3 linked regions of the Homo sapiens genome follow. The protein of the gene in region 3 purifies or fractionates together with the protein of the main gene of each other region. This does not show direct contact. Each region holds a gene or a part of one and is shown on either strand. Other genes may lie near its edges.

Evidence for each region.
Region 1: the proteins of IL36A (region 3) and RNF20 purify together in Homo sapiens (affinity purification with mass spectrometry; 3 studies listed by BioGRID and IntAct, with this or other methods). This does not show direct contact.
Region 2: the proteins of IL36A (region 3) and TLK2 purify together in Homo sapiens (affinity purification with mass spectrometry; 2 studies listed by BioGRID and IntAct, with this or other methods). This does not show direct contact.

Annotation. Positions count from the first base shown.
Region 1 is NC_000009.12:101,536,727-101,540,473, reverse strand, and holds part of RNF20 (E3 ubiquitin-protein ligase BRE1A), read right to left. Parts: intron 272-3,747; coding exon 104-271; intron 1-103. UniProt on the Homo sapiens protein: Component of the RNF20/40 E3 ubiquitin-protein ligase complex that mediates monoubiquitination of 'Lys-120' of histone H2B (H2BK120ub1).
Region 2 is NC_000017.11:62,476,761-62,480,507, reverse strand, and holds the start of TLK2 (serine/threonine-protein kinase tousled-like 2), read right to left. Parts: upstream 1,684-3,747; 5' UTR 1,218-1,683; intron 1,065-1,217; exon of another isoform or gene 1,031-1,064; coding exon of another isoform or gene 895-1,030; intron 1-894. UniProt on the Homo sapiens protein: Serine/threonine-protein kinase involved in the process of chromatin assembly and probably also DNA replication, transcription, repair, and chromosome segregation. Phosphorylates the chromatin assembly factors ASF1A and ASF1B.
Region 3 is NC_000002.12:113,003,373-113,007,119, forward strand, and holds the start of IL36A (interleukin-36 alpha), read left to right. Parts: upstream 1-2,086; 5' UTR 2,087-2,499; coding exon 2,500-2,509; intron 2,510-2,601; coding exon 2,602-2,715; intron 2,716-3,225; coding exon 3,226-3,365; intron 3,366-3,747. UniProt on the Homo sapiens protein: Cytokine that binds to and signals through the IL1RL2/IL-36R receptor which in turn activates NF-kappa-B and MAPK signaling pathways in target cells linked to a pro-inflammatory response.

The sequences.
Region 1 (3,747 bases), on a different chromosome or scaffold from region 3:
ACAATTATGAAGAAACAAAGGACACAACTTTGGAAATGAAGAGAACAGTAAGGAGAACTAAATTGGTCAAATAAAAATCTGAACAAATAAACAAGTTAGCTACCTGACTCCAGTATCGGTTGACAATCAATAGTGAGGCATCATCAGTGGCCTGTCGTCGTTCCAGTTTTTCAATGTGCTCACGAAGTTCATCTTCAATGGCCTGCCGCTGATCCAACATTTCTGCCAGCTTGCGATTTTTGGTTTGCAGTGTTCTAATGTCTAGTTCCTCCTGCCCAGTAAACCAATCGTATTAGTCTCCACAAAGAAATAAGAAAAATGAGCCGTTAAACTCAACAAGGTCACAATTATTCATTAGTTATTTTCTATGAATAAAGCTATTGACTTTTAAAAAATCTTACAAGTAATTAAGAAGTAGAAGCAGAAGAGATAAACAACAGGTATATGATGGTGTGAGGAAAGAATAATACACACAAATACACCAGAACCTCAACCCATCTCGCTGTTCTAGTCACATAAACATCTACAAAGTAATGCTGCTTTAAGGCCACCATCCAGCTAGATCACCCTCGACTCCAATCAACACTGTCTTCTATCTCGTAAGCACCATCCTTCCTTCATTAAAGACTTCAGCACCTGGGTCCCTGTCTATCCCAGTTCCTGCCAATATATCTGGTGACTTCACCATACATGTGGACAAACCATCTAATCCTCTAGCATCTAGGCTGTCAGTTTTTCCAGTTCCTTCACTCCAAACATTATCTCCTCCACTGTGCTTCAGCCATGCACTTCAAAAGACACATCTCAGACTTTTGTCATTATCTGGAACTGTACCACATCTGAAATCTTATATTCCAACTTCCCATTCCCTGAAAAACACCACGTCTTTCCAGGTATCTCATGCCCTTAACCCAATATACCAATCCCTTTACCTCATCAAGATCTCCAGAATGTTGAATTCTTTTCTTTCTCCTTTTCGGTCTCCTTCTATCTCTGCTACCTTCCATATCTTAATCATATGCTATATAGTACATTCCTTCAAACACCTGCCTAACAGCCTCCTTGGTTCTCTGCCCTTAATCCTTTTATTCTATCTCTGTCAACAAACCCCAATCTGAATTAATCCAGTTATCTGGCTATTCCATTCCTGTACCCAGTATGCTGAGACTTCTAGAGAAGTTCATCAAACCACCGAAACCGGTGCCTTTACAAAATGAATTCTTAGCCTAAACAGATTTTATAATTTGTCTAGAAATATTTCTTTATCAAGTGAGCTATTTCCCATTCTCCAGCAAGGCAACATCAACCTCTACCAAACCCTGCCCCCTTTTACATCATACAAAACAGATGGCTTTACTTCCTATTTTAATGAGAAAATAGAAGCCATCAGATGGAAAACAATTCCCCATCTCTTTGACCCATTAACACAATTATGCACACATTCTTAAAACCTCAGCTTGTGCTCAGGATCCTGTTCTCTTCTGTCTCTACAAAACCCTCACTCCATTAGTAATTTCACATCCCTCTCAATATTTTTCTCTCTCCAGCTCCTTCCCTAGGACAAACCAGGGAGGGGTTGGTGGGAGGTGGGATTGGAGGATATAACAAGCAAAGAACCAGCATGTGGAAAAATAGTCTTACTTTTCTGAGGAATTAATGAAATCATTATTTTAAAGTGACAATTGTTTATTACACCACCAATTTTTGTTTCATTTTTCTCTTTTCCACTTTAATTAAAACATTCCTAATATGCCAAAGTAGTCAACAGTTTTCCCACTGTACCAGTTTATTAACACTATTAATAAACTATATCCTCAAACTCTTCTCTGAACATTGCCTTTCCCTTCTTGCTCTAACTGAAACTTGGATGAGAAACTGTTTCCCTGCAGGCTTCTCTAGTGGTGGCTGTTTCTCTTCCACACCCCTTGAAGCCAGAGAGGGATGAATATCCTCCTTATTTTCCATTGCCACTTCCAGGCCATTACCCCACCTTCCTCCCTAAAACCTCCTACCTCTGCAGCTCATGCCATTAGCCTATACCACCTGCCGCCATGCTCTGTTGAATTCATCTGTAAATGCCCACGTCGTTTCCTCACATTTCACAAAGACTTAGCACCTACCTTATTATCACTCTCCAATACTTTTCCTGTCATCATTCTTAATGATTTCAATACCCATACAGATAACCTTTCCTATACTTGAATCATCAAGTCACTGACCTCCTCTTCACCAATGATCTTGTCTTCTACCTCCTTCAGCCACCAACTCCCACATTTAGTCTTACTTGTACCTACATGTCCTCTATAAGCTCAATTTCAAACACCTCATTCTTCACAACTACCACTATTTTTCCAGCTCACTCTCTCCAGTTTCCTTACTCCAAAAATTCTTTAACCTCTCCAGGATCTACAATCCATTGGTCCTATACCTTTCACTTCTCTCACCTCCTTCTTTACTGAACTTAAATTCCATGATCAGTCATTATATAGTCATCTACTTTACAGCGATACTCCTTTATAAAGCATTGTCTCTACTCTCTTTTTCCTAATTCCTCTCCCCTCATATTCTCTTAAGCTCACTGAAAACAGGGTGCCATCCCCACTATTTCACCAACAAAGGTGTTTTGGTATCTCCAGTGAACTATTATTAAATATAACACCTCAGTCCTCCCTTTATTCCCCTTGTTCCAACTGAAACCTGAATGAGAACACATCAGCAGCACCTAATCAGCTCCTTCTTGAAATACTTTCTTCATTGAGCTTCTGGGAACCCATTCTCTCTTCCTATCCTCTTACCTCATTGGTCCCTCTTTGTTTGTATCTTTGATTAGTCCTTTCTCATTCCTTGACATGAAAATATTGTAGTGCCCCAGCAGACCTCTTTATGCTTATTCATTAAAGGAGTCTGTAGTCTCATAGATGTAAACACAACTTACAAAATGACGATTCCCAAATATACAGCTTTAGCCCAGACCTCTCTCTAGTATCCAGCTTATTAACTACCTATCCATTCAGAGGTCAAATAAGTATCTCAAACTTATATGTCCCAAACCAAACCAAACTCAATTCATCCTCCATGACTCCCAAAAATCTGCTCCTCTCATACACTTCTCTAGCTCAGTAAGTAAAAATTCCATTACTTTCAAAATCCTGGGATGATCCTCCCTCCTATCTTTCATGTGAGTTATCCAATCCATCAGCAGATCTTATCAATGCTACCTCCACAGTGGTCCAAGCCACCATGATTTCTCATTAAGATTACTGCAAAGGCCTCCTATAGCAAAAACTCTGTGCTAAGTCCTGTCAGCCTGCCAGATTTCAGCACAGCTGTGGTGGACAGCTCCATTTACACTGCCATTGTTCCCACTTCAAGCACACTTTGGAGACTCAGTTTTTCTGTCCCGCAATCACAGCTGGCTCCTAACAGCAATCTCAAAATGCACAGGAGGGACTGCTTTCAATGGCAACCTTCAACCAATTGGAGCGGGGATCAGTGGATACATGCCTCAGATCCCCACCTTTGGAGAGATGCAGTTATAGCGAAAGAGAGTAAGAAGAAGAAAAGAAAAAAGTCTGCTAGCTGGACTCTTGTTTATAATCCTTGCTTTTCTATAGTCTCCAAACACAAGTCAGAGCATGTTAGTCTCCTACTTAAGACTATCCACTAACTCCTCATTGCCTCTGGATAAAGTCCACACTGGGGTGTGTGCTATGTGCTTCCCATAAGTATGTGCTTATCCCTGTCAAC
Region 2 (3,747 bases), on a different chromosome or scaffold from region 3:
TATAGCTCCATAACAATCCCTTTAAAAAATCTTTTTCTGACCACTCCCTGCAGTAGTTTTCTCTTGATTCTGGACATCTGCTTTTAGCCCTTCTTCCAAGCAGGGAGGGGCAGGAGGACACCATTTTTAAACTTCCATAACCAATTAATGCACAGGCTACTTTCAGCAAATATGTTCATCCTTTGCAAGAGACCAACTCCTACACGACCCATTTAAAACCTCTCTTTAATATTAACAGTGGAAAAGAAACATATTACATAGAACCCCTTCGAACACATTATTAAGTAGTTGGAATGGTTGGTGTGATTTTAAAGTTACTGAAAAGATGAATCGAACATTCTCCTCTGCAATCCAACAACTCTACAATCTCCAGTAACAACCCCCTTACAAGTCCTTCAGTTTCATTTCCCTTCCTGGATTGAGAGCCTGGGGCAAAGGGGAATGAAAAGGTGACAAATTAAAGTTTCACCCACACATGCAAGTGCAGGTTAGAGAGAGAATTAGGAAATTCTCAGAAAGGTTGAAATGCATCTTTACAAAAAGAAAAAGAAGGAAAAAAAAGAGACTGGGAGAATGAGTTTCCCCCGTGGCCTTCCTCGCGTCTTGCCCTGCCCTAATCGAGGTCGGAATGGCAAAGGTTGCAGTCTCTCCCAAACCCCAAGGTCTCTCGCAACACTTCCCAAACCTCCATCCCCAGGCCCGGCCCGGAAAATGACGCCCCGGCGGTTATTCCGTTTAATGTCAACTCATGTTAAGGAAATAGCCACTCCGTCTAATTCCAGCGGGGCCTTGGACTGGGATCCTCCCTGCAGCCCACAGCCGGGAAGCAGGAGCGATGGGGCCTGGTCCCGGCGCCCCTCGCCGGCTCCAAACTTTCCCCAACTCCAGGCCCACCTGTCACGGAGGAAGGGAGGGCCGGCTCTCGGGGGCGCCCGGGAGGCTGCCGAGGCCTCCAGCTGCCTGGGGGCCCCCGTCTCTCCTCCGGCCGCCGGCCCCAATCCCAGGCCGGGGCCGCCTGGGCCTCCCCCATCTTCTGCCCGGCCCCTCAGCGACCCGCAGCCCTCAGGGAGCCCCTCCCGCCTCAGCGCCCAGGAGCTGCGGTCCGGAGCCGGCCCCGAGCTGGGCCCAGGTCGCAGGCTCCTCAGGCCAAAGGGGTCCCCAGGACGGTTAATGCCCCAGGCCTGGAGTCCTCCCCCGCCCGGGGCTCAGCCTCTCACCTGCCGCCGCCGCCGCCGCCGCTCCACGCTCCTCCCGGGAGGGGCCCCGACCCGACCCGGCTGCGGACCGCTCCGCTCTCCCCCTGGGCAGGCCCGGGGCGGAGCCGGGGCCTCTCCTGAGCGCCGCAACCCCCCGCCCGGGCAGCCGCCGCCGGCGCCGGGCTCCACGAGAGGGCGGGCGGGGGAGGGGGGGCACGAAGGCCGCAGATCCCCGGGCTCGCGTACAGAGCCAGGCGCCCGACGCGGGCCCGGGCCCGGGCGGCCGCGGGGGGCGCGGGACCGGCCTCCTGGCGCCGGACAAAGGCCAAGGGAGGCGCAGGAGGGCCCAGGCCGGGCCAGGAGGTGGGGGCCCGCTCGGCTGGGGGCCACTCGGGTGCGGCGCGGAGGGCGGGGGGGTCGGAACCGCTGGTGCCCAGGACCCGCCTCCGGCCCCTTAATCCGGATCGGTTCGGTCCGGATTAGTAGTGATCGGTGTAAACACACTAGTGAAACCGCGTGTTTCCTCGCGAGATTTGCACGGCTGGGAGGCGGGGGGGGTCCTGGGGGGGTGGGGGAAGCGCCGACAGTGGGGGAGCAGGGGGAGGGGACGAGGAAGGTGGGGGGGGGTCCCCGCTGCCCCGGCGCCCCGCCTTCTCCAATCAGCGGCCGCGCTGCCGGGCAGGGGTTAACCAGGGGACCCCGCGCCGGCGGAGGAAGCCGCGCCTCGCCGGACGGCTGAGGGCGGGCGACGGGCGGCGCCGGCTGACGGGCCGCAACGCGAGGGGAGGTCCGGCGGCCCGGGGCGCCCTGCGACTGCCCGAGGCCGGAGGCCCGGAGGACCCGCCGCCGCCTTTGTGTCGCCGGCCCCCGCCCCGCTGGACTGGCCCGGGCCGGGGCGGTTGGGCCGGCGCTGAAGGGGCTTGGCCGCCCGGGTCCACCCGTTCCCGGATCCGCCTCGCCGGCCCCCGCGCCCGCCCAACCCCTGCCCAGCCCCTCGGCTCCGCGAGTTTGGGTGAGAAGTGCGGCGGCTTTTCCCAGGGATGGAGTTTAGAGGACGCTAATCCTATGTGTGAGCGGCGGACCCCGCCCGGACTTCCCGGAGGCGCCCGGTTAGTGAGGCGACGGCGCCCACCCGCGTTCGCGGGCTCCCGGCCGCCACTCCCCGGAGCCGCCGGCCCGCCCCAGCCCCGCGCGTCGCCCGGGAGGGCGGGCTGCACTCCCTCCACGTACCTGGCTGGCAGAGCGTCTCCAGGGACAAAAGGTGCCCTGGGATCAAAGCCGAGCCCCCGCCCCCGCGGGGATGCTGCCCTCCGGAAGGAGGGGCGCTGCCCCCAAGGTACTCTCCCCGGGCACCCAGGGGGAGGTTCCATTTCAACCTCCGATGAAAAACACGGCCCTCCCGGGTACTTAGGAGGGTCTGAGGGTAAGTGCCAAGATGGAGAAAACACGCCGGCCCCTCACAGAGTATCTCCTGAGGAATGAGAACTATCTAGCGGGCAAGGAGGGCTTCCTGCATAGCAGAGGGCACCCCCTCTGATCCCCCAAGGCCAAGGGAAAAAAATCACTCTTCACCGGCGCCCCTGAGCCAGGACAGGCTCCAGTGCAGCCACCCACCTTATAATTTTCCGCGGATGCTGCCTTGATCAGATGTCTGAAGATGACTTTAAGGACTACAAGCAAATCTCAAGGGAAAAATTCAGACCTTGAACAACAGCCTTGAACTTTTTCAGGGTTAGACAAGTACTCCCCAGTGGAGTTTCTGCCCTTATTTCTTCGTTCTTCTCTTAATTCTTCCATATTTTAACAGAACACAGACCTGCCGAAACGACACAGGATGGCTCTTTGCTTTTTGTTAGTTCTCCAACCTTCCAAACCCTTGGGGCACATGCAAGCACTGTGGAAAAACTTCATTAAACCAAGAGTCATCTTACTCCAGATCCCAGACTGCTTGGGAAGTTGGACATGCATATTCCCAAAGAGAACAGTGTTGGAAGAAGACAGGAGAGCAGCTCGCGGGTTGGGGGTAGAGGGTAGGAAAAGAGGGCAAGATGGAGGACTACCACTCGAGGCCAGCCTCCACTGCCTGTTAGGGCGGTAGAACCTAAGAGCCGGTCCAAGGCAACACAAAAGACAGTGAGGCTAGGTCTTTAATTGCAGCCAACGATCAAGAAAGCAACTCCATCAAATGACACTGTCTTTTTAAAAAAAATTTTTTTTTTTTGAGACAGAGTCTCGCTCTGTCGCCCAGGCTGGAGTGCAGTGGTGCGATCTTGGCTCACTGCAACCTCTGCCACCCGGGTTCAAGCAGTTCTCCCTGCCTCAGCCTCCTGAGTAGCCGGGATTACAGGCACGCGCTACCAGGCCCGGCTAATTTTTTTTTTTTTTCTTTTTTGGTAGAATCGAGGTTTTGCCATGTTGGCCACGTTGGTCTCGAATTCCTGACCTCAGTTGATCCGCCCATCTCAGCCTCCCAAAGTGCTGGGATTTCAAGCGTTAGCCACCGCACTCGACCAAATGACACTGTCTTAAATGATTTAATGTCTTAAATCGG
Region 3 (3,747 bases):
CCCTAGAGGTGTGAAGCTGACAGATGCTAGGATCTCCAACAGCAGTTGTGAACTCAGGTTGTTGAAGGTATGGAGCAGAGCATCAACAGTATTACCTCAGCTTCCTTTTAGTGTAGACCTAATGTCAGGTACTGCGAGCTCAGAGCACTGGGGCCTCTGGCAGCCAGGCTTCCTTTCCTGCTGTATTAGTCAGGAGCCTCCAGAGAGATAGAATCATTAGGATGTGTGTTTATGCACACAAACACAGACACACATACAGAATCGGCACTTTGTATCTGCAGGTTCAACCAACCAGCATTGAGGGATGCTGAGCCTGTGGATGAAGAGGGCTGACTTTTTGTATAAGTGGGTTCTGCAGGGTCAACTGACAAACTTGTGTAGAGACAGGGTTTTGCTGTGTTGGCCAGGCTGGTCTTGAACTCCTGACCTCAGGTGATCTGCCTGCCTCGGCCTCCCAAAGTTCTGGGATTACAGACATGAGCCATTGTGCTTCAACTTTAAGTTTTTTAGTCATAATTGTGTAAGCTGAACCAATTAAGATGTCTATGATATTGGCTATCATTTCTGCTGTTAATATTCAGTCCTCTTCAACTAGGGCACAAAAAGATTAGTTTTTTCCTTGCAAAGTGATGTGGATGGTCTGCTGCTGCAGGTGCTATTTTCAATATTGTCTCACTTCTTAAAATGAGTTATCCATTGTAAACTGCTGATTTCTTTGGGTCATTGTCCCCACAAACTTTTTATAAGCCATCAATGATTTCACCATTCTTCCACCCAAGTTTCACCATAAATTTGATTTTTGTTCTTGCTTCAATTTTAGAAGAATTCATGTTGATCTTATAGGGGCTCTTTTCAAACTGATGTCTTACCTTTCTTAGTGCCTCAAACTAGATCCTGTTCAAACACCTTATAACAAGTTAGTAGGAGTTTATTTTGGTGCAAAATAATTCAAAATCCATGCATAGTTTTTTTCATAATATGCATTTTCCATGAACTTTTTGATGACCTCTTGTATGAAAGGGGATTTATTAGGGGAATGAACTCATGCAATTTTGGAGGCTGAGAAATCCCATGACAGACCACCTGCAAGCTGGAGACCCTGGGATGCAGGTAACATGCTCAGTTCAAGTCCTAAAGCCTCAGAACTAGGAAGCCACTGGTGTAATTCTCACTTTGGGATAGAAAGCCTGAGAACCCAGGGAGATGCTGATATTAAGTCCTGGAGTCCAAAGTCTGGAGTTATAATGTCCAAAGGCAGGAGAGAATGCCCCAGCTCCAGGAGAGACAGAAAATCACCTTTTCTCTGTCTTTTCCATGCCATCCATGCCCCCGGCCAGTTGGATGGATCCCACCTACGTTGAGGGTAGATGTTCCCCACTAGTACACTGACTTACACACCAATCTTCTTTGGAAACACCCTCATAGACTTACCCCAAACTAATGTATTACCAGTTCTTTAAGTATTCCTTAAACCAGTCAAATTGACACTTAAAATTTACTATCACGCTACCTATACTAGAGATAGTGATCTAGAGTCCATTGAGGTGGCTAGAGTGCTCAGGAGCTGGCTTTGCTACAGTAATACTCCCTTCTTCCATGGAGAAGCAGCATGCACAGTGGCTCTGAGAAGCTGGAGGAGGGTCACTGGAGTGAGTGGGCTTCTGGTCTGAAATTGACCAAGAATATAGTTCCTGTGGACCAGGAGTGATTAGAAGCTACAGAGGTCTTAAGAGACCTATCCCTCCTCAGTCTACCTTGCACTTACTGAGGGCTCCCACTCTTAGGAATAATTCCATCGTTTCATTTTGTGGCATCAGAGATGAGTCATTGACCCGGAAGAAGTCCCGTAATGTTTCTCAACTCAGTATCTGTGACTATATTTCCTGCTCTTAAAAGTTTAGCATGCCCTCATGTTTCAGGTTGCTTGGAGAAGTCTTAACCATGCTGTTCACATAAAGAGTCACTAAATCCTCTGGCATCAGGAACTAGAAAATATCCTGAGTGTTGGGCAGTGCCAGACTTAGTGAGGCAGAACTTCCTTCCTTGCCCATGTGGATAAAAGGCCTGGGCCCTGTTACAGCCTGTCAGAAAACCCAAGTGCAGTAGAAGCCATTGTTCATAATGGTAGGGATACAGGGTCCTTCGTAACAGATTATCAGTGTGGCCTATGCTGGAAAGTCTGGTGACCTCTGATTTTTTTTGCTTCCAGGTCTTTGGCCTTGGCACTCTTTGTCATATTAGAGTTCCTGGGTCTAGGCCTGGGCAGGATTCATAGGTGCAGCTGCTTCTGCTGGAGGTAGACTGCATCCAACAAAGTAAGGGTGCTGGGTGAGTTCTGGGAGTATAGATTCTGACTGGGGTCACTGCTGGGCTGGCCGCCAGTCTTTCATCTGACCCAGGGTTAAACTGTGGCTTGGGACTGACTCAGGTCCTCTCTTGGGGTCGGTCTGCACATAAAAGGACTCCTATCCTTGGCAGTTCTGAAACAACACCACCACAATGGAAAAAGGTAAAGATCCTCGTGGAAGGGCGAAAAATTGACAAGGGGGTGATATTCTGTGCTCTCATTCTTACTAATTTACATTTTGACTTTCTCAACAGCATTGAAAATTGACACACCTCAGCAGGGGAGCATTCAGGATATCAATCATCGGGTGTGGGTTCTTCAGGACCAGACGCTCATAGCAGTCCCGAGGAAGGACCGTATGTCTCCAGGTGAGTAGCCACGGTCTGTGAAAGGCAGCTCCTTTGGCCAGTGCTGTTGTGTGTTTGGTGCTCAGATGTTATTCCACAGTGGGCTTGTTAACCGGGCATATCTACAGAGAGGAGCATCTCACAGACAATAATGAATAGAGGGTGAGCATAAGGTTGTTCTGGGACTATGGTCATGAAGTCAGAGAAGAGAGAGAAGGCTTAAGGGAGACTGAAGGGTCAGCCTATGAAAAACAGTGGAAGACGTATTCTGAGAAACTTCAAGGAGTAAGAGTAGGACAAAAGAGGGTAATCTATGGGAGGACCAGTTTTTGAATCCATGAAAGACTGACTTTTCTAATGGAAAGTGTTCCCCAAACATAGGATGGGTGTCCCGGTTAGGTGGTGGGTGGTGAGGTGACCATTCTATGAGTGCACTGTGAGTGTCAGTTAGCAGATTCCCTTAAAACTCTGGCTCAGAGGTACCACCCTGGAAATGGCAGCTGAACACCACTTTTCACATCGTGTTCCCAGTCACTATTGCCTTAATCTCATGCCGACATGTGGAGACCCTTGAGAAAGACAGAGGGAACCCCATCTACCTGGGCCTGAATGGACTCAATCTCTGCCTGATGTGTGCTAAAGTCGGGGACCAGCCCACACTGCAGCTGAAGGTGAGTGTGGAAGACAGGTCCTGCCATTTATTTGATGGAAACTCAGATTTCAGGATCTTTTAAAAGACAATGTACTTATTATGCTCATGCATTTTTATTTTTGGTTTCCTTGGGGTTGGTATATGTTATGAAAGACTAAGAAAAATTGCAGGGACATTTTGAAACAAACCTACTAAAATGACTTATTATTTTAATTTACAAAAATATTAATAATTTGGCAAGGATGATGTCTAACTTCAATAGAACACACACACAGAGTAAAATCAGCAAGGACATTTTAGCAGTTAATTATCACAAAGTAGACGAACTTATTAAAACATCTTTTTGGCAAAAAATACATTGCAACTTTAAATGAACAAACATAATTCTCTGTAATAAACAC